Homo sapiens: one gene and its partners. The protein of the gene in region 2 interacts with the protein of the main gene of each other region in a pairwise test. Each region holds a gene or a part of one and is shown on either strand. Other genes may lie near its edges.

Region 1 (7,028 bases), on a different chromosome or scaffold from region 2:
TATCCTCATTTGAATGAAAACAGAGCTCTTCTTTGTATTGTTCATAATGGCATACCCAACACCCAGCACAGCACCTAGCACACAGAAATATTCAGATATTGTCGGAATGCATGAATGTTTATATAATTTCATGGAAGCATTAATTATTGAAATAAGAGTGCACTTCCCTAAGTTACTTATCAGGGAACTAGCTTTGGTTATCAGTAGCTTTGAGTTTCAGATTTGGGAAAAAATTCATTAAATTAGCTATTCTAACAGCTAGCTATAAGGTCTATGGTCAACTCTTCTGCTACTACTATTCACCAAGATCATTGATGAAACTGTATTCATAAATCTGGTGAAAACTTTTCAGTTCTTATCCTACTTGTAGTTCACTTTGTCTCAGGTACTCAGAAAAAGGATGTGAAGACAATGCACAGGGAATACAATAGTTTCAGGTAAGTTTATTTTCTTTAACTGTTTCTATGCTGAAGGTGCATATTAATGGTGAGATATTCTATAATTCAGAGTTCATCTCGTAAAACACTAAAAAAAAGTATTTTTTTTAAGTTCTAAGATTTGTGGATTTGCCTACAACAAAAAACTGCAGTTGGTTAGTTCTAGTTTCATTGCTGCCTATGGCAACTGTAATTCCTCTGTAGTTTTTTGTTGTTGTTGTTGTTGTTGTTTAATTCTAGTGCCCCTGTTCTGCTTAGTTCAACCACATGGTACAACAGGTCTGCAAGTGTTACTATCAACTAAAAAAAAAAAAAAAAAAAGAAAAATTTTTGAACAACCAGTTCATGAGGAAATAAAAAAATTACTCTACACAAGTGCCCAACACCCTAAATCCTGACTTTCTCCCAGCTTCCAACCTGTTACTTGCTTTAACCTTCCCCCAGGAAGGTTTTCAGCTGAGGCCTTTATTTGCAGTTAGGGACACCTGATGGAGTTCTAAGTCTTTCTTATGTAAGTCCAACATATAATACATTGTACACAACCTCCAACTGTTTTAAAGCAAATGAGAATTTAAAGATATTTACAAATCAATCTACCACTGATTCCTAGATCCTAAGTCATCTCACCCACACCTAAATTGACAGCTCCTTTTTTATTTTAGCAATTAAACTATATAGATTATTTCTAAAGCATTTAACAAAGTTTCGTAGCTATAAGTACTCCCTCTTTATTCATGTTTAAGTACAACCTCTTAATTCATATTTTAATTAAATCATGCAATTATAATAAACAAGTACATACATTTAGGAGCAAACAGCTTGACACTTCAGCAGCACTCTGCTGGAGCAGCCAAAGAAAGTCTGCTCATCAGAGAATAAACTAGATGCTGTCAACATCCAAGGATTTATAGAAAAGTTGGAAATGCTGGTCAATATGCAAAGTCATATAAGTGGAGGTCAGTTAAGACTGATATGCTTTTCTTTGAGAAAAGGCCATGAATCAAGTCTCAACACATTTCAGGAATTTCTATCATTTGTACCACCCTCTCTGACCACAGGACATTAAATTAAAAATCTTCATCAAAAAGATAACACACAAAAAAACTCAATTTTTGGAAATCTTAAAACATTTAAAAATAACTCAACAAAGAAGTATTGACGATGAAAAACGTGTGGGGCAGGTGTGGTGGCACATGCCTGTAGTCCCAGCTACTCAGGAGGCCAAGGCAGGAAGATCACTTGAGACTAGGAGGTCGAGGCTGCAGTGAGCTGTCTGTGGTCACACCACTGCACTCCAGCCTGGGTGACAGAGTGAGACCCTGCCTCTAGAAAAAATTTTTTTAATTTTTTGAAAAGAGAAAAATGTGCAAAATGACAAACGAATGGAAATAATACAAATTAAAATTTGGAAGCTGCTCAATAGCATTTAAAGGGAAATACAGGGCATTATTAATGAACATATTAGAATTTTTAAAAGCTTAAAAATGATGATCCAAGGACAAACAACCAACTTAAAAAGTCAAAATGAAACTAACAAAATAAACTCCAAAGAAAATGAAAAAGGAAATAATTAAGGTAAGAGCAAGAAATGATGAAACAGAAAATAAAATGCAAAAGAGGAACAATACATCCTAAAACTGGTCTTTTGAAAACACTAAGAAAATAAATAGTAAAGCAATAAATAAACAATATTGCCATGGGGGGGAGGAGCAGAACATAATGAAAATCCCAGAGATTAAAAAATGGTAAGAAGATATCATTTAAAAAAAAAAAAAACTCTGTCTATAAACTTAGATTTGTTTGTTTGTTTGTTTTTGTTTTGTTTTGTTTTGAGATGGAGTCTCACTCTGTCACCCAGGCTGGAGTGCAGTGGCGCAATCTCAGCTCACCACAACCTCCGCCTCCTGGGTTCAAGTGATTCTCCTGCCTCAGCCTCCTGAGTAGCTGGGACTACAGGTGCACGCCACCATGCCCAGCTAATTTTTTTTTTTTGTATTTTTAGTAGAAACAGGGTTTCACCATGTTGGTCAGGCTGGTCTCAATCTCCTGACCTTGTGATCTGCCTGCCTTAGCCTCCCAATGTGCTGGGATTATAGGTGTGAGCCACCGCGCGCGGCCCTAGAATATTTTTTGAATGAGCAATCACCTAGAAAAATATCTTACCAAATTGACACAATAGGCTAGTCTGCAATTATCAACAAATTCATTCGGTACATAAAAGCTACCCACTAAAGAAACACGAGGCCAAGATAATTTTTACAGGTGAATTCTATTAAAATCAAATCTTATACCAATTCTAACAACACTCTATGCCTATTATGTTTCTACAATAAGCCTTTAGCCAACCAGGAGCAACCCAAAAAAACAAAATGTATTGTATGTAGTAGTTCACAATTGCAAACATTATAAGCATTCTTTTTACAATCAAAAGTGGGGAAAAGATGTTTTCTTTGACACTTCTCTTCAACATACTAGAGGTCCTAGACCATGCAGTAAGACCAAAAGATAAAATGAAACCACAAGGATTTGAATGAAACAAAACTCACTATTCACAGAGGTTATAATTACGTACTTAGAAAATTCAAAAGAATCTAAAGATGAATTATGGGAAGTAAATATTTTATCAAGATGGTTGCTACAAGTATCAGCTACATGTTTCTATGCTGGCAACAAACAGAAAATACAACTTTAAAAATATTTACTATAATAATAAAACAAAAAAGCACTCTAAGAATAAATCTGACAAAAGCAGAAATGTGATTTTTATGAAAAATGCATGGCAATTTTACAAAAATGTATTAAGGAAACCTAAGCAAATGGACAGAAATATATTTCTGAAGAAGACTAAATATTGTAAATATAGCAATTCTCCCCTAAATTAATCTATATGTTCAATAAAATTTCAACAAAAATCACATCAGAGTGGGTAGGTTTGAGTGATTATCCATCTGTTATTCATTTTTTATTTATTTGGCATAAGATCAACTGATGCTTCATTATATAGAAAAGCAGAGAACAAAGGAAGGTTGAGATGGTTTTAAAGGATGGTAATATAATGAGCTTTATGACATTGGCTAAGAGAGAGAAAAATAGCCTCATAAAGTAGGAGAACCAAAGATACTATATATGTAAGAGTAAGCTTGGAAGATACGTGAAGAAAAGAAGATGAATTAATCCAAAATAGTACTAAGAAAATAGGTTATCCCTACAAAAAAAAATTAAAATCGGATCGCTATACCACACTATAACCAAAGTTAACCATAGAGCTATAAGAAGATGCTATAGGAAGATGACTTTCTGATCTCCAAGAAGGGACTTTTTAAATCAGACTGAAATATGAAAGTTAAGGAAAAGTTTTATATATTTTAAAACTGTCACATCAAAATGTCTCTTCATTAACAGATAAAAAGAAAAACATAAGTCATTAAAATGCAACAAAATTTGTAACTAGATCCCCTTAGAATCAACTTTTTAAATGACAGACAATACAGCAGGGAAAAGAGATCAATAGTGATTTTACTGAGCAAAAAAACCACATATGACTATTAAACATAAATAAAAATGTCCAATTCCATTATAAACAAGAAAATGTAAATTAAAAACACAAGATACCATTTTCTAACCAACAGACTGATAAAAATTTAAGTCTCACAGTATTACATGTTAAAAAGGATAGAGTATAATATCCTTGAAGTACAATATCCTTAAAAAGGATAGAGTATAATATGAAAAGGATAGAATTTTCATATACCACTTGGGAAAAAAATTTGCCATGATTTACTAAAGTTAACATGTGCATAGCCTGTAATTCCTCCCGGAAATAAAATCTAGAGGAAAGCTCACATATGTGCACCAGGAGACATGTACAAGGATGTTTGTAACAGCATCATGTTGTCTTTTAATTGAACTTTTTCAGATAATTCTAGATTCACAGGCAGATTGGAGAAATTATATGGAAATATCCCATGTAGCTTCTACCTGGTTTACCACAATGGCAACATCTTGCAAAACTATAGTTCAATACCACAACCAGGATATTTCATTCACACAGACCAGATACAGAACATCTCCATAACCACCAGAATCCCCAGTGTTATCCTTCTATAGCCACACACACTTGCCTCTAACTTTCACCCCATCCTTACCCACCGGCGACCAATGATTTCTCTATTTTTTGTGTACAGTTTGGTCATTTCAAGAATGCTACATAAATGAAGTCATACAGTACGTTACCTTTAGGGATTGGCTCTTTTCACTCAGCATAATTCTCTGGAGATTCATCCAGGTTGTTGTATATATCAACAGTTTGTTACTTCTTCTTGCTGAGTATTATTCCATGATATAGATATACCATAGATTTAACCATTCACCTGTTGAAGGATATTTGGTGTGTATCCAGTTTGGGTCTATTATGAATAAAATTGCTATAAATACTCAGTTTTATGCACATATACGTCTTCAATTTCTCTGGGATAAATGCCCAAAGTGTAATTGCTGAGTCGTATAGTAACTGCATATTCAGCTTTTCAGAAACTGTCTATTTTCCAGAGTAATTGTACCATTTTACATTCCTATCATCAATAAGTGATCCAGATTCTCTTCATCCTTACCAGCATTTGGTGTTATTACTATTTATTTTAGCTATTCTGATACAGGTTTGTAGAGACCTATCATTATGGTTTTAATTTGCATTATGGCTAATGACACTTATTCATGTGCTTATTTGCCATATGTATATCCTCTTCAGTGAAATGTCTCTTCATGTCTTTTGCCCATTTTCTAATTTGGTTTTATGTTTTTTTGTTTTTTGTTTTTTACTGCTGAGTTTTGCAAGTACTTATTCTAGGGACTAGTCCTTTCATTTTGGGCAATTTTTGCATAAAGTGTGAGACACAGATCAAGGTGTTTTGTTTTTTCTTCTGCCTACTAATGTTCAGTAACAGCACTGTTTTTAGGAAAACAAAACAAAACCCCAAATGTTCATCATCAGAACAGATATATAAATTGTGGTATATTCATCAATGGAATGTCAAATAAAAATGAAAGAACTAAAGATACATAGAGCAATATAGATGAGACCAGATACATGATACTGAGTGAGAGAGGCAAATTGCTGAAGAACATATTGTACATACATTGTGAGTGACTCGATTTATATATGGTTGTAAAACATACAAAACTACACATATGAAAAATATGTTAACACTATTTAAAAAGAGACCCCAAAAAAGCAGAATTTAAAGAGTGGAATTTACCTCTGAGGTGGGAGTAAGGAGAAGACTTAGAGAACTTCAAGGTTAACAAGAAATTATATTTCTTAAACCAATTGGTGGGTACACAGGTGTTCATCACATTGTCATTCTGAATATGTTCTCATTATTTAAAAAAAAAAACTTTAAAAGGTTATTTTTCAAATTGAGATTTGCATAAGCAAGAGCTAAGAATAATAGCTGGTAAGATGTCACTTTAAAGATCTTACCCTCAGCAGGTAAAAAAACAGTTATTATAAATTGTAATACAGGAACATACCAAACAGACCCTTGTTAGGGAAAGATGACTTCTGAGCAAACAGGTGACTTCTGACAAACCATTCTTATCCCACAAGCCTCATTTTGCCCTTGCAGGCTCAGCGCCTGACTTTTCTTTCAACTTCAAGTCCCCCAGTCATTCACCTTCTCTCCACACAGTTCCTTCTGCTTTGTTTTACAGCATTCTGCCCTCCTCGGGTGGCAATGCTTTAAGTCAACACCAACATCTGACCTCTCCAGCTTATCCACAGGACTTATCTTCTTAAGAGATGGTGTGAGGACAAAGGGTGAGCCTTCCTGACTTGAATTAATGACGACCCACAATTGAACAAGTTTCTAATGTTCATATTTACAAAGAATATAGTCTAGAATCTCAGTTAAATCCATATTAAAAGTAACCCCATGCATAACATTATTCACACATATAATTGAGATAAATCTCAGCACACAGATAGGAAAACAAAGACAGTCAATTTCAAACAACTAATAAAATTATTTAACCATTACAAAATCCCTTAACCATGCCGAATTTTGCAAAATATCTAAGAAATTATTATGCAAGACACTGAAAGATGTGTTATTAAGTAGTTAATTGGTATTTTTAATAGTTAGGACTGTTTTCCTCTTCTGTCTTCTCCTCCTCTCCTCTTTTCCTCCCACACTTTCTCCCTTCCTCTCCCTTTCTCTCTCTCTCCCTCTCTCTCTCTCACACACACACAGACACACAAACACAAACACACACCCCTTGCTGGTTAAAAACTTCTTAAAAACATACAACTGCCTGTATTTGTATATATACATATGCATTTGGTGTCTTGTTATAACTTCCCTTTAAACCACATATTAATGGGCAAAAAAAGTCCTAACATTCTATCTGTTGAAAAGCTGGGTCTGTCTCCAATAAACATAGTTGCTCGTTTCAGTCAAATCAGCTTATTTACTAATTATAAAATATAATTTTAAGATGGCCAAAACGAAGTAGTAGGAAAAGTATATTACTACTTTAATGGAATTTGCTTCTATTTTTGAGGTCTGTCCCAAAAGGACAAATATGTTGACTTAT
Region 2 (7,028 bases):
GTAGAGATGTTTCTCAATCTCTCATCTCAGCTCTTTAAGGACAGCAAAGAGGGATCCAGATAGGAAGAGAGATGCAAAGAAGAGAGAAGAGGGCTGGGCGCACCGGGCGCGGTGGCTCATGCCTGTAATCCCAGCACTCTGGGAAGCTGAGGCAGGCGGATCACGAGGTCAGGAGTTTGAGACCAGCCTGGCCAAGATGGTGAAACCCCGTCTCTACTGAAAATACAAAAATTAGGTGGGCGTGGTTGTGTGCGCCTGTAATCCCAGCTATTCGGGAGGCTGAGGCAGGAGAATCACTTGAACCTGGGAGGCAGAGGTTGCAGTGAGCAGAGATCACACCACTGCACTCCAGCCTGGGTGACAGAATGAGACTCTGTCTCAAAAAAAAAAAGAAGAGAGAAGAGGACAATGGAGAGCCTAAGATGGAACTAAAATATCACCCTGAAAAAGAAAACTCACGGTAAGTATGAAAACACCAACAAAGAATTCCGTTAAATCGGGAGGGAGGAAGGGAAGGTCGGGTAGAGACACTTTTAAACACATGCAGAACTTGATGAGGTAGTCTTGAAAACGCAAGCCTTCTGGGAAGAAGGAGAAAAAGAATGAAAGGGTACCCTCTGTTGGCCGGGCGCGGTGGCTCACGCCTGTAATCCTAGCACTTTGGGAGGCCAAGGCGGGCGGATCACGAGGTCAAGAGATGGAGAACAGCCTTGCCAACATGATGAAACCCAGTCTCTACTAAAAATACAAAAATTAGTTGGGTGTGGTGGCGCGTGCCTGTAGTCCCAGCTACTCAGGAAGCTGAGGCAGGAGAATTGCTTGAACCCGGGAGGCAGAGGTAGCAGTGAGCAGAGGTTGCAGTGAGCCAAGATTGCGCCACTGCACTCCAGCCTGGAGACAGAGCAAGACTCCGTCTAAAACAAAACAAAACAAAACAAAACCAAAGAGAAAGGGTACCCTCTGAAAACTGTGCTGTGAAAGACACAAAGAAAATGTAAGAGCCAAAGGACATAGAACCACCTCCCCGACAAAAAAGCCTTCTAGTAGAATTAGAAGCCATACTTGACTACACCTAGAAAAGAATAGGAACTACTCTTGAACTAGGAATCTCAAAAATCATCCTGAATGACTGTCACTCCTGCTCACGAAATGCAAACTTCGAGAAAAAAAAAAGATTGAAAAGAATGAAAGAACCTCAGGATCCTGTGGGCTAATATCAAAATGTCTAACTCACATACAATTGAAGTGAAATTGAACTCACATACAGAAGAAGTGAAAGAGAATGGAACAGAAGAAATATTTTTAAAACTAATAGCTCCAAATTTCCCAAATTGGCCGACAGACATAAATTTACAGATTTAAGAAGCTCTGCAAATCTCAAGAATAAATCTCCGGATAAATACAAATAAAATGACACCTAGATACACCACAGACAAACTGCTAAAAAACAAAAATAAAGAGAAAATCTTGAAAGCAGGTAGAGAATGATAACACATTACATACAGAGTAATGAATGATGCAAATGATGGCTCCATTTTACAATAAAGGTAAGAAACATATCTAGAAATCAATTTAACAAAATATGTATAAGACTTCTGAACTGAAAACCATAAAACAGAACTAAAAGAATTTTTTTTTTTTGAGACAGAGTTTCACTCTTGTTGCCCAGGCTGGAGTGCAATGGCACCATCTCGGCTCACTGCAACCTCTGCCTCCCAGGTTCAAGTGATTCTCCTGCCTCAGCCTCCAGAGTAGCTGGGATTACAGGCATGCGCCACCATGCCTGGCAAATTTTGTATTTTTCGTAGAGACAGGGTTTCTCCATGTTGGTCAGGCTGGTCTCAAACTCCTGACCTCAGGTGATCCACCCGGCTCAGCCTCCCAAATTGCTGGGATTACAGGTGTGAGCCGCCACACCTGGCCCAAAATTTTTATTTTTATTATTATTATTTTTTGAGACAGAGTTTTGCTCTTGTTGCCCAGGCTGGAGTGCAATGGCACTATCTCAGCTCACTGCAACCTCCACCTCCTGAGCAAGTTCAAGCAGTTCTCCTGCCTCAGCCTCCCAAGTAGCTGAGACTACAGGCACCTGCCACCACACCTGGCTAATTTTTGTATTTTTAGTAGAGACGGGGTTTCACCATGTTGGCCAGGCTGGTCTCGAACTCCTGACCTCAGCTGATCTGCCCGCTGCAGACTCCCAAAGTGCTGGGATTACAGGCATAAGCCACTGCACCCGGCCTAAAAAGAAATTTTAAAAGGCTTAAATAAGAAGGAAAATGCACCAAGTTCATATATTTGAAGACTCAATACTGTTTAGGTGTCATTTCTTTCCAAATTGATCCATAGATTCAATGCAATCCCAATCACAACTTTACCAGACTTTTCTGTAAAACTGGTAAAGATAATTCTGATATTTATATGGAAATGCAGAGGATTTAGAATATTCACATCAAGCTTGAAAACAACAAAATTGGAAGACCTACAACTACATGACTTCAAGACTTACTAAAAAGCTACAGTAATTAAAAGTGTGGTACTAACACAAGGATTGAACAATGGAACAGAAAAGGGAGTGCAGACATCAATTACCATTTGTACAGTCATCTTAATTTCCAAAACGCAATACAATAGCATTTTCAACAAATGGTGCTGGAATGACTGGATATCTATATGGAAAAGAAATTAATATTTAATTATATCTCACACCATTCACCTAAACTAGAAATGGGTGATAGGCTTAAACATAAAACTAAAACTATAAAATTTATAGGCCGGGCACGGTGGCTCACGCCTATAATCCCAGCATGTTGGGAGACCGAGGCGGGTGGATCACAAGGTCAAGAGTTCAAGACCAACCTGGCCAACCTGGTGAAACCCTGTCTCTAATAAAAATACAAAAATTAGTTGGGCATGGTGGCGCATGTCTGTAATCCCAGCTACTCGGGAGGCTGGGGCAGGAGAATCGCTTGAACCTGGGAGGCAGAGGTTGCAGTGAGCGGAGATCGCCATCACCGCACTCCAGCCTGGACGACAGAGCAAGACTCTGTCTCAAAAAAAAAAAAAACTTACAGAAGAAAACATGAAAGATTATCTTCACAGCCTGAAGGTAGCCAAGATTTCCTAGGACTCAGAAAGCAGTAACTATAAAAGAAAATATAAGAGAAAACTGATTACATCAAAATGTAAAACTTCTGTTCATCAGACAACTCTAAGAAAATGAATAGGCAACCAGACAGAGGACAGGTAACCAGGATATAAAGGTTATATAAATAACTGCTACAACTCAATAATAAAAAGACACACAACCCAATGTAAAATGGGCAAAAGATTTGAGCAGGCACTTCACAAAGGAAGATGCACATTGTCATGGGCACAGGAAAAAGTGCTAAACACCATTAGTGACTGAGGACTAAAATTAAGACCATGACACACCACACCCATCAGAATAACTCAAAAGACTGACAACACCAAATGCTGGCAAGGATGTAAAGCAACTGGAACTCTCATACACTGTTGGCAGGAAACAGGCTGATAAAACCACTCAGCTGTTAATGCACACTACTCTTCATGAAAACCAAAGGCCGACTCCAAGGACGGAGCCACACGTCCAGGGAGTAGAGCAGCAGAGGCCCAATCCCAGGCCTGGAGCCCTACTGGTTTTTTGAGACGAAGTCTTGTTCAGTCGCCCAGGCTGGAGTGCAGTGGCACAATCTCGGCTCACTGCAACCTCCATCTTCCTGACTGAAGCAATTCTCCAGCCTCAGCCTCCCGAGTAACTGGGACTACAGGCACGTGCCATCACGCCCAGCTAATTCTAATTCTTGTATTTTTAGTAGAGATGGGGTTTCACTATATTGCTCAGGCTGGTCTCGAACTCCTGAGCTCAAGTGATCCCCCCGCCTCGGCCTCCCAAAGTGCCAGGATTACAGACGTGAGCCACCGCGCCTGGCCTATTAGTTCTTTATTTATCTTGAATATCAGTCTTTTGTCAAATAGGTCCCTGTGTTTCCCCATTCATTTTCTTAGAGTAGTCTGTGATTACATTTTGATGTAATCAATCATATTTATCTTTGTGTGTGTGGTTTTTTTTTTGGGTTTTTTTTGCTTTTTTAAGTGACTCTGGCATCCTGAGCCCTAAGAAACCTTTGCACACACTCAGGTCATGAAGATATTCTTCTCATCTTCTTCCAGAAGCCTCACGGTTTTCTAATTTTGAAAATAGGTCTGGGCGGGGCCCGCTGGGTGCAGTTGCTCACACCTGTAATCCCAGCACTTTGGGAGGCTGAGGCAGGCGGATTGCATGAGGTGAGGAGTTCAAGACCAGCCTGGCCAACATCATGAAACTCCATCTCTACAAAAAATACAAAAATTAGCTGGGCCTGGTGGAATGTTCCCGTAGTCCTAGCTACTCAGGGGGCTGAGGTGGAAGGCTTGCTTCAGCCTGGAAGGTAGAGGCTGCAGTGAGAAGAGATCACCCCACTGCACTCCAGCCTGGGTGACAGAACGAGACTGTCTCAAAAAAAAAGAAAGAAAGAAATTAAGTAGCCAGGAGTGGTGGCTCACGCCTGTAATCCCAGCACTTGAGGCTGAAGTGGAAGGATCGCTTGAGGCTCAGGAGTTCAAGACAAGCCTAGGGAACATGGCTGTCTCTACAAGCAGCAAAACGTTAGTCGGGCATGGTGGAGCATGCCGGCAGTCCCAGCTACTCAGGAAGCTGTGGTGGGAGGATCACTTGAGCGGGGGCGAGGAAGGGGTCAAGGCTGCAGTGAGCCATGATCATACCACTACACTCCAGCCTGGGCAACAGAGGAAGACCCTGTCTCAAAAAAGAAAGAAAGAAATTAAATATGTATCTGTCATATGATCCCAAAATTCTGATAGGTGTTTTCCCAGAGGAAATAAAAACATGGTAAAAAAAAAAAAAAAAAAAACTCAGGGGTAGAAGGGAGAGAGCCTGGACTAGGATAGTGGCTATGGCAAGAAATCATGAATTCAAGATATTAAAAAGGTAAAGACTGGCAAAGATGTTTTATTCTTCTCCATTTCCTTATCACCTAAAAGCATTTTTCTTTCTTTTTTTTTTTTTTTGAGGAGTCTCACACTGTTGCCCAAGCTGCAGTGCAATGGCACAATCTCGGCTCACAAAACCATTTCTTATTATATGTGGAGGGCTGAAGAAGCATGTCAGGTGGACTCTGGATATACAGATCAAGAGGGAGATGTGACAAGGTGATGGGTGAGATTCTGACTGTGAAGGTCAAGAACGGCTTGATGAACAAGACTGGAGCAAGTTTCTTTTATTTTCATTTATGAACACAGTACTATAATGTTCATGAAACTTTAAAAAAATTAGCAAAAGTAGAAAAAAAGTGGCCAGGCACGGTGGCTCACATCTGTAATCTCAGCACTTTGGAAGGCCAATGCAGACAGATCACCTGAGGTCAGGAGTTCAAGACCAGCCCGGCTAACATGATGAAACCTCTTCTCTACTAAAGATACAAAAATTAGCTGGGCATGGTGGCAGGTGCCTGTAATCTCAGCTCCTCAGGAGGCTAAGGCACAAGAATCGCTTGAATCCAGGAGGCGAAGGTTGCAGTGAGCCAAGATCGCACCACTGCACTCTAGCCTGAGCAAGAGTGAGACTCTGTCTCAAAAAAAAAAAGTAGAAAAAAAATTTTTAATTGAAATCTCAAAATGTCATTACCTCTAAAGCCTTATGCAGCTCACCACACTCTGAAGTATGTCTTTTTTTTTTTGAGGGGGAGACACTCTGTTGCCCAGGCTGGAGTACAGTGGCGCAATCTCAGCTCACTGCAACCTCCACCTCCCAGGTTCAAGTGATTCTGGTGCCTCAGCCTCCTGAGTAGCTGGAACTACAGGCATGCGCGACCACACCCAGCTAATTTTCTGTACTTTTAGTAGAGGCAGGGGTTTCACCATGTTGGCCAGGCTGGTCTCGAACTCCTGACCTCAGGTGATCTGCCCACCTCGGCCTCCCAAAATGCTGGGATTACAGGCATAAGCCACCACACCTGGCCTGAAGTAAGTCTTAAAATTTGTGGGAACCCAGTAATCCCAGCACTTTGGGAGGCCGAGGCAGGCAGATCATGAGGTCAGGAGTTCGAGACCAGCCCGGCCAACATGGTGAAACTCCGTCTCTACTAAAAATACAAAAATTAGCTGGGCACGGTGGCGGGTACCTGTAATCCCAGCTACTCGGGAGGTTGAGGCAGGAGAATCGCTTGAACCTGGGAGACGGAGGTTGCAGTGAGCCGAGATCACGCCACCGCACTCCAGCCTGGGCGACAAGAGTGAAACTCCGTCTCAAAAAAAACAAAAAAACACGGTGGGAACATAGGATTAATTCCCTCACACTGATCATTTCTCTGCACTCCCACACTCAGCCATTAGAGAACTGCGGGGCCATACACTAATCACTGAATCCCCAACACTCAGCACAGTCCCCACTCAGCACATAGTATGAAGAGCATTTTAGCCTTATTTTAGCTTCTCTCCACATCAAAACTGCCAGTTCAATATTAAAAATGAGTGCCTTGAGTGAAGAAATGCTAAAAGCTGCAGAGATGGAAAAATATCCACTAGGCTTTCTGCCCTTGAAGCACTACTGAGACAGTCAGTTCTCATTATTCAGGGTAGTTATGTCCTGTAAAGCCATCATGAACACTGAACTAGCAAATACTGAGCCACTGCTCCCAGGGGAAATACAGGGTTACTCAACAGGCCAATACATAACCTTGTTTTATGTGTGCTTCTGTTTAAAGATATCTTATTTAATATATATTGTTGATGCAGTAACATGAACTCACAGCCAACAACAAAAGTGATGCCTGAACAAAGCTAATCTAAAAGCTTATCTTTTCTCTATAAGATATATCACAGCCTTCAACTTGGAAATGCTAGACAGCACTTCTATTCTTGGAGGCCCCTATAAACAGCAAAATCACCAAAAGCACAAAAATACAAAAAAACATGGCACTACGTATACAGCCAAAATAACACTTATG
Region 3 (7,153 bases), on a different chromosome or scaffold from region 2:
TAGGCTTTATGCTGTGAAATTCTCAAAACCTAAAGCTTATGAAATGGTCTCAATGTCCAAAGAGCACTAAAAACTCATTATTTGCAAAATGATACCAAGTAAATGTTTCATAATCTTAGTTGTACCTTTATAATATTTGAGTGGCTATGTGAAATGGTCACAGGTTAGAAACAGACCATAGTTCAAAAGTTAAATAATATCTCACAGGTAATCATTTCAGTCACAGAAAGTGGAACCAGGATTGAAGAGGGTGTTGAACAGGCTAAGAGGGCATTGAACAGGCTACTGAAGTGGGAGTAGTATACCTGGAGTCATTACTAAGCAGAGTTCTCAGATTTGATCAAGGTTAATTCAATGAGGAATGGAATATAGAGAAGAATAGGCAGCAAGATTAGTAGGAAGCAGTCAGATCAAGTAGCCAATCAGGAATTGAAATGGTCCTTGAAAAGGGAAAGATGACTGAATTGAGGCATACAATGAGATATCATTCTGTGGCTCTGGGAAAGTAAAATTGGTTGGCATGTTAATATGGAATAGGGTTTCTACAATACCGCTTAAAGAATGTTCCCATCCTCTCAGAACTGAAGGGAGTTTCAAACAGGCAGTTTGTGAGCCATGGTGAGTATGATGATGATGATGTGATGATGATGATACAGTCTCCTTTATGTAACAGCTGGCAGAAGACCTGGTCACACCCACACATTTTAAATTCACATAAAACTAAATATATAGGCTGGGCGCGGTGGCTCACGCTTGTAATCCCAGCACTTTGGGAGGCTGAGGCGGGTAGATCACCTGAGTTCAGGAGTTCGAGACCAGCCTGACCAACATGGAGAAACACCATCTCTACCAAAAATACAAAATCAGCCAGGCGTGGTGGTGCATGCCTGTAATCCCTGCTACTTGGGAGGCTGAGGCAGGGGAATCGCTTGAACCCGGGAGGCGGAGGTTGTGGTGAGCTGAGATCACACCATTGCACTCCAGCCTGGGCAACAAGAGCGAAACTCTGTCTTTAAAAAAAAAAAAAGTAAATATATAATATATGGCTGGGCACAGTGGCTCACACCTGTAGTCCCAGCACTTTGGGAGGCTGAGGTGGGTGGATCACTTGAGGTCAGGAATTCGAGACCAGACTGGCCAACATGGTGAAACCCCATCTCTACTAAAATACAAAAATTAGCCAGGTGTGGTGGCAGGCGCCTGTAGTCCCAGCTACTCAGGAGGTTGAGGCAGGAGAATCACTTGAACCCGGAAGGCAGAGGTTGCAGTGAGCCAAGATCATGCCACTGCTCTCCAGCCTGGGTGACAAAATGAGACTCCATCTCAAAAAATAAAAATAAAAAGTAAATATAGCTGGGCATGGTGGCCTGTACCTAGCTACTTAAGAGGCTGAGGCAGGAGGACTGCTTGAGGCCAGGATTTAGAGACCAGCCTGGGCAACACAGGGATACTCTGTCTCTAAAAAAATTAAAAAGTAAATATAAGCAGAAGTCTTCTGGCAAAGATTTCATTCATTCAGTCATTTTTTAGAGATAGGGTTTCACTCTGTGGCCCAGGCAGGAGTGCAGTGATGCAATTATTGCTCACTGCATCCTCAAACTCCTGGGCTCAAGCGATCCTCCCACCTCAGTCTCCCAAGTAGCTGGGACTACAGGTGCATGCCACATCTGGCTGATATTTAATTTTTTATTTTTCTTTCTTTCTTTTTTTGAGATGGAGTCTCACTCTGTCACCCAGGCTAGAGTGCAGTGGCACAATCTCGGGTCACTGCAGCCTCCACCTCCTGGGTTCAAGTAATTCCCATGCTTCAGCCTCCCGAGTAGCTGGGACTACAGGCGCATGCCACCATGCCCGGCTAGTTTTTGTATTTATAGTACAGATGGAGTTTTGCTATGTTGCCCAGGCTGGTCTCAAACTGCTGGCCTCAAGTGATCAGCCCGCCTCGATCTCCCAAAGTGCTGGGATTACAGGCATGAGCCACGGTGCCCAGCCTTATCTTTACAATTTTTTTTATAGAGATGGGGTCTCATTTTGTTGCCCAAGCTGAGATTTCTTAAAAAGGGACAGCATAAAATGACATGAGGTTTAGCATCAGTAGGTTTTAGTTCAATCTCGAGTTTCCATAATTCTTGTCAGGAACCTTAAACAAGTCGCTCAACCACCTTGAGTTTGAGTTTCTTCATGTAAAAAACCCAGAGAACTGGAAGATTAGTGTGGCAATGCATCTGAAAATATTCTGTAAACCAGCGTGCTGGACAAATGCTAACCTATTATTGAATTCAGCACTTCATTTCAGCGGAGCTAGGAATTCCATATTTGGACCCACCTTGACTGGAGATTTCTGAAAAAGCTGCTTCCGGTCGCATGCCTTTTGGGCTCTGTGGGCAGCCCTTGCAGAATAAAACTTAATGACGGCATAGAAACCAGGATGGGCCACTGCAGCATTTGGGAAGACCCGGACTGAATACAGAAGGCCAAACTGAGAAAATGCTGTGAACAGAGAATGCTGTGGGGGTGGGACAAGTAAATGCATGAAATCTCACGCCCAGAAAACAAAACCGCACATGCCCTCATATTCCCCAAACCTCTCTTCGCGAAGGATGCGATTCAAAACACTTCCCACTTAATCAACAGGTTTTCCTCTTAAAATCCTAAACTTTAAGAAGCACTGGAAGGTAAAACGTTCTGAAGGTGGAGAGATACCTCTCCGGGACTCTAAAAATCTGTTGGGGGTCGTCAGTTGTCAGTTGGGATCCCCTTTATAATTAAGAGTCCTTCAGCGGAGGCTCAGGCAGGTGAGGGTCTGAGGCAGGACTCCGGAACTCCCAGTCAGCGGGTGGGCAGCTTTCTCCATCCCTCCCTCCATCCTGGCCCCGGCTCACATGCAAAGCCTCGGCCGTGGGTCCGGAGCTCAGCTCCCACACTAGCAAGGTTTTGTCACTCTCGATGGGAACCGCAAAAGGTACCAACTCCGCCATCCTCCCTTCACCGCACCTGCGCGGCTAACCCTCGCCCCAGCATTGCGCCTGCGCAAGGCACGCCCGCGCTTTTTTAAAAAGAGGCGCATGCGAGGGGCGGGGACGGGGCTCGGATCGCTCCCTTGCCCCTCCTACCTAGGGCCAGCCTCTGAGTCTGTTCCCCTCCTCCAGTCACAGCCACAAGATCCCTGAGTTTAGAGCTTCCGTTCAATGCATGTTTAGGGTAAAGTCCCAAAATAGGCTGACAGGATGGAAGGGTAGGGACGTGTTTATAGAAGCCAGCTTCATCTTCACTCCTGAAGGAGATTAGGGTACTAAGTATTAGCACTTGTGGGAAATAACCACGAAAGATGCAATCTTTTGACTTAAGAGGTTTTTTTAAGAGTTTAAAATTGCAAATAAAAGTATAACTCACTAAACCATTAACAGTCTCGCATGAAATCCTTAAAAAGAATTCCCTGATTGTCCTACGTCATTCTGGTGAATCGTGTATGTGTACTTGTGGGGGTCAGATGATGTGAGAGGTTGGAGGTACGAGTGAGAAGGAGAGATTAATTTTGAAAAAAGAAAAACAAACAAACAAACAAACAAACCCACAAAGAATAAGTCCAAATAAGGCACCAACATTGGAGCTGATGGTGTCTGAGAAGGGTAGGTGTCATAATCAGCTACGTGGTGGAGGAGTGTAATCAACTGGTGGGTTCATCATACCCACTGCCCAGAAAAGCTGATTTACTGAGACAGTGTTATTGAAATAGGCAAAGAGTTTCATAAGCACAGAACCAGCTAAATAGAAGACTGGAGTTTTACTATTACTCAACTTAGCCTCCCTGAAAATTTGGAAGCTGGTGTTTTTTAAAGGGTAATTTGGCAGTCAGGGGGCCAGGGAATAGGAAATGCTGACTGGTTGGGTCAAGGATGAAATCATAGAGAGTCAGAGCTTGTGTTCTTGTGCTGAGTGAATTCCTGGTTGGGGGCCGCAAGACCAGATGAGCCAGTTTGCCCATGTGAGTGGTGCCAGCTGGTCCATCAGAATGAAGGGTCTGAAAAATACCTAGAACCCCAATATTAGGTTTTACAATAGTAATGTTGAAAGCAGTTAGTTAGCTTGGACACAAAGCAAGGGAAGGGTCCCCGGAGAGATCCCGGCTCACAGGGTCAGTGCCTTACCCCCACATAACATAAAAAGCAGCCTGGGAAAAAATTCAAGCTACCAGCACCCATAAGAGAACTAGCATAGGGTGTTGTGCCTGGAGACATGCCCACGGCTGCACAGATGGAAAAACCTCTGGCCCATTTGGATAAAAGCTTGCACAAAACTTCAGCTCACTCAGACAAAAGAACAAGGCCTGGCATAGAAATGCCTTTGTCCTTTGTATAGTCAGTGGGCTCCCAGGATGAAGTTGCTTCTACTTTTGTGGGCATGGGCATAGTGGGCTCCGGTGAGTTCCAGTGGGCACTCTACTTTCCTTTTTGGACCTGTAAGTCCAGCCTCTATGAATCATCACTTCAGCCCCTGATAGGTCTTGGGCCAAGCTAAGCAGCATCTAAGAATCATTTCAGCTCCTGATTGGTCCTGGGCCAAGGCTCCTTGCCAAGCTGAGTTCTCCAAGACAGCTGTCGGACTAAGCACATTGCTTCCCCTTCCCAGTCCATAAAGACCCCAGCCTCACAGGGGACACCCGTTCTGGCCCCCACGCTCTGCTGGCAGAGAGCTTTCTTCTTTCGCTTATTAAACTTTTGCTGTAACCCCACCTTTGTGTCCACGCTCCTTAATCATCTTGGAGGTAGGACAAAGAACTCCGGGGGTTATATCAGACAACTACAGAGTGTTATATCTTGGTGCATTGCTGAGACTACAACAGTGTTTTGTATAGGAGCAACTGGAGAGGTTAGGAATCTTGTGGCCTCTGTCTACATAATTTCTGAGCCATAATTTCTAATCTTGTGGCTAATTTGTTAGTTTTACAGAGGAGATCTGATTCCCAAGCAGGGAGGTGGTTTGTTTCAGGAAGGGACTATTATCTTTGTTTCAAAGTTAAGCAGCAAAAATTCCTCTCATAGTTAGCTTGGCCTGTGCCCAGGAATGAGCAAGGGCAGCTTGGAGGTTAGAAGCAAAATGGAATCAGTTAGGTCAGATTTGTCATAATTTTTATAAAGGCAGTTTCAGTAACACAAGAAGTAAAGTGAGTCCTACTACTGTTTATTTTAATCCTAGAATGTCAGAGCCAGAAGAGACCCTACAGGACAAGTCTCTTGTGATTTCTGAATAATGATCCTCAGACTCATGCTGTGATAAAGTTTTCACCCCTACTCTACAAAATGAGGACCATATGGAAAATATAATCAGGTTTTTTATAATTTCATAAAATAAAGTAGATTCCACTCCATTCTTCTACAAGTATGACCTCCCTATAATGTTGATACTAAAAATTTTTCTATGAAAAGATGCTAATAGAGGATAGTTGCTTTAATGCTCTTACTTGGACATTAAAATTAAAAATTAGAAACCTCGGCCGGGCCTGGTGCCTGACATCCATAATCCCAGCACTTGGGAGGCCGAGGCAGATGGATTACTTGAGGTCAGGAGTTTGAGACCAGGCTGGCCAACGTGGTAAAACCCTGTCTCTACTAAAAATACAAAATAGCTGGGCACGGTGGCTCATGCCTGTAATTCCAGCACTTTGGGAGGCTGAGGTGGGTGGATCACCTGAGGTCAAGAGTTCGAGACCAGCCTAGCCAACACCGTGAAACCCCGTCTCTACTAAAAATACAAAAATTAGCCGGGTGTGGTCGGGGGGCGCCTGTAATCCCAGCTACTGGGGAGGCTGAGGCAGGATAATTGCTTGAACCCAGGAGGCGGAGGTTGCAGTGAGTGGAGATCATGCCACTGCACTCCAGCCTGGGTGACAGAGTGAGACTCCATTTCAAAAAAAAAAAAAAAAAAGATTAGCTGGGTGTAGTAGCACACACTTGTAGTCCCACCTACTTGAGAAGCTGAGGTAGGAGAATTGCTTGAGCTTGGGAGTTGGAGGTTGCAGTGAGCCAAGATCCTGCCATTGCATTCCAGCCTGGGCTACGCAGTGAGACTCTGTCTCAAAAAAAAAAAAAAAAGAAAGAAATCTCAGGTTTAATTATTTTTTACATTTTATCACCTGTGAAATACAAAAGTCTGGCAACTACTGAATAGTCAAATCCCTCCTTCTATAGTAGAAACAGCTAAGGCTCAGTGGTAGAGAAATAAGTGGTCCAAGATAAAACCCCAGATTGGTCAGACACTACTGACGGTGGCTATGTGTAGGACATTCCTTCAACTGTCACTTTTCTGATTTTGCCTTTTCTTTAAGCATGTTCTACTCCACCTCAGCACCCTCCAGGCAAACCAGATCCTGTCCAGAGCACCTTTTTTTAATCATCTAGATCCTAGCTTATTCTCCCAAAGCACCCCCAAATTATTGGTATCTGCCACTATTTCTCCATCCCATCACTACTTTCTCCACATCAATACCAGACCCCACCCATTGCCTACTTCTGAGTTTTCTCTTTTACTTCAAAAATTGTTCTTTGGAGGAATTACTTGGATGCTGATACTGTTTCAAAGCAATAATTATGGATTTTACTATACATTTAATTACCTATTGTAATGTTTGTGGATGTCTCTGCTTCTCCACCTAGATTATGAACACCTAAACAACAATAGCTGTGTTTTGTCTTCCTTCTACTACCTAGTACACTCCCACTGTCTTAGGTACTCAAATATATGTAGACTAATGAATAAATGGACACAGTCTTTGCAGAGCGAGTGCTTTAATATTTCGATAAATATAAAGATTTCTTTATTGTGGTCCTCAGTTTACAAATAACAGACAGGAACCAGGGGACTGGGTCCAGATGGGAGTAAGGAGGAAGCCAAGAAAACCATTTATTCCTGGGGCTCTGGTCAGTTTTAGTTGTAAATGGGAAGGGAAGAAAATAACATGAAGTGGAGGCAGTAGGAAGAAGAAATGAAGAATCCCTGAGTGAGGACAGGAGTCTTGGAATGACTCCACGGTGCACCCGCACCCTGTTTCATCTCAGGCGGCATCCTGTCAGCCAGTAGAAGAGTGGCCGGCCTGAACAGTGCAACCTCCATTCTACCCTGCGGAGAAAAAAGACATGGTTCTTGCCTCACACTC

What was found. The genes of interacting proteins can lie anywhere in the genome.
Region 1: the proteins of RAD52 (region 2) and RPA3 interact in binary tests that used the Homo sapiens proteins (3 or more experiments, as listed by UniProt).
Region 3: the proteins of RAD52 (region 2) and RDM1 interact in binary tests that used the Homo sapiens proteins (3 or more experiments, as listed by UniProt).

Annotation. Positions count from the first base shown.
Region 1 is NC_000007.14:7,708,584-7,715,611, reverse strand, and holds part of RPA3 (replication protein A 14 kDa subunit), read left to right. Parts: intron 1-385; 5' UTR 386-437; intron 438-7,028. UniProt on the Homo sapiens protein: As part of the heterotrimeric replication protein A complex (RPA/RP-A), binds and stabilizes single-stranded DNA intermediates that form during DNA replication or upon DNA stress.
Region 2 is NC_000012.12:939,695-946,722, forward strand, and holds part of RAD52 (DNA repair protein RAD52 homolog), read right to left. Parts: intron 1-7,028. UniProt on the Homo sapiens protein: Involved in double-stranded break repair. Plays a central role in genetic recombination and DNA repair by promoting the annealing of complementary single-stranded DNA and by stimulation of the RAD51 recombinase.
Region 3 is NC_000017.11:35,927,750-35,934,902, forward strand, and holds the start of RDM1 (RAD52 motif-containing protein 1), read right to left. Parts: upstream 3,025-7,153; 5' UTR 2,979-3,024; coding exon 2,883-2,978; intron 2,551-2,882; exon of another isoform or gene 2,534-2,550; coding exon of another isoform or gene 2,507-2,533; coding exon 2,327-2,506; intron 1-2,326. Other genes in the region: LYZL6 (lysozyme-like protein 6 precursor), read right to left, coding at 7,047-7,116. UniProt on the Homo sapiens protein: May confer resistance to the antitumor agent cisplatin. Binds to DNA and RNA.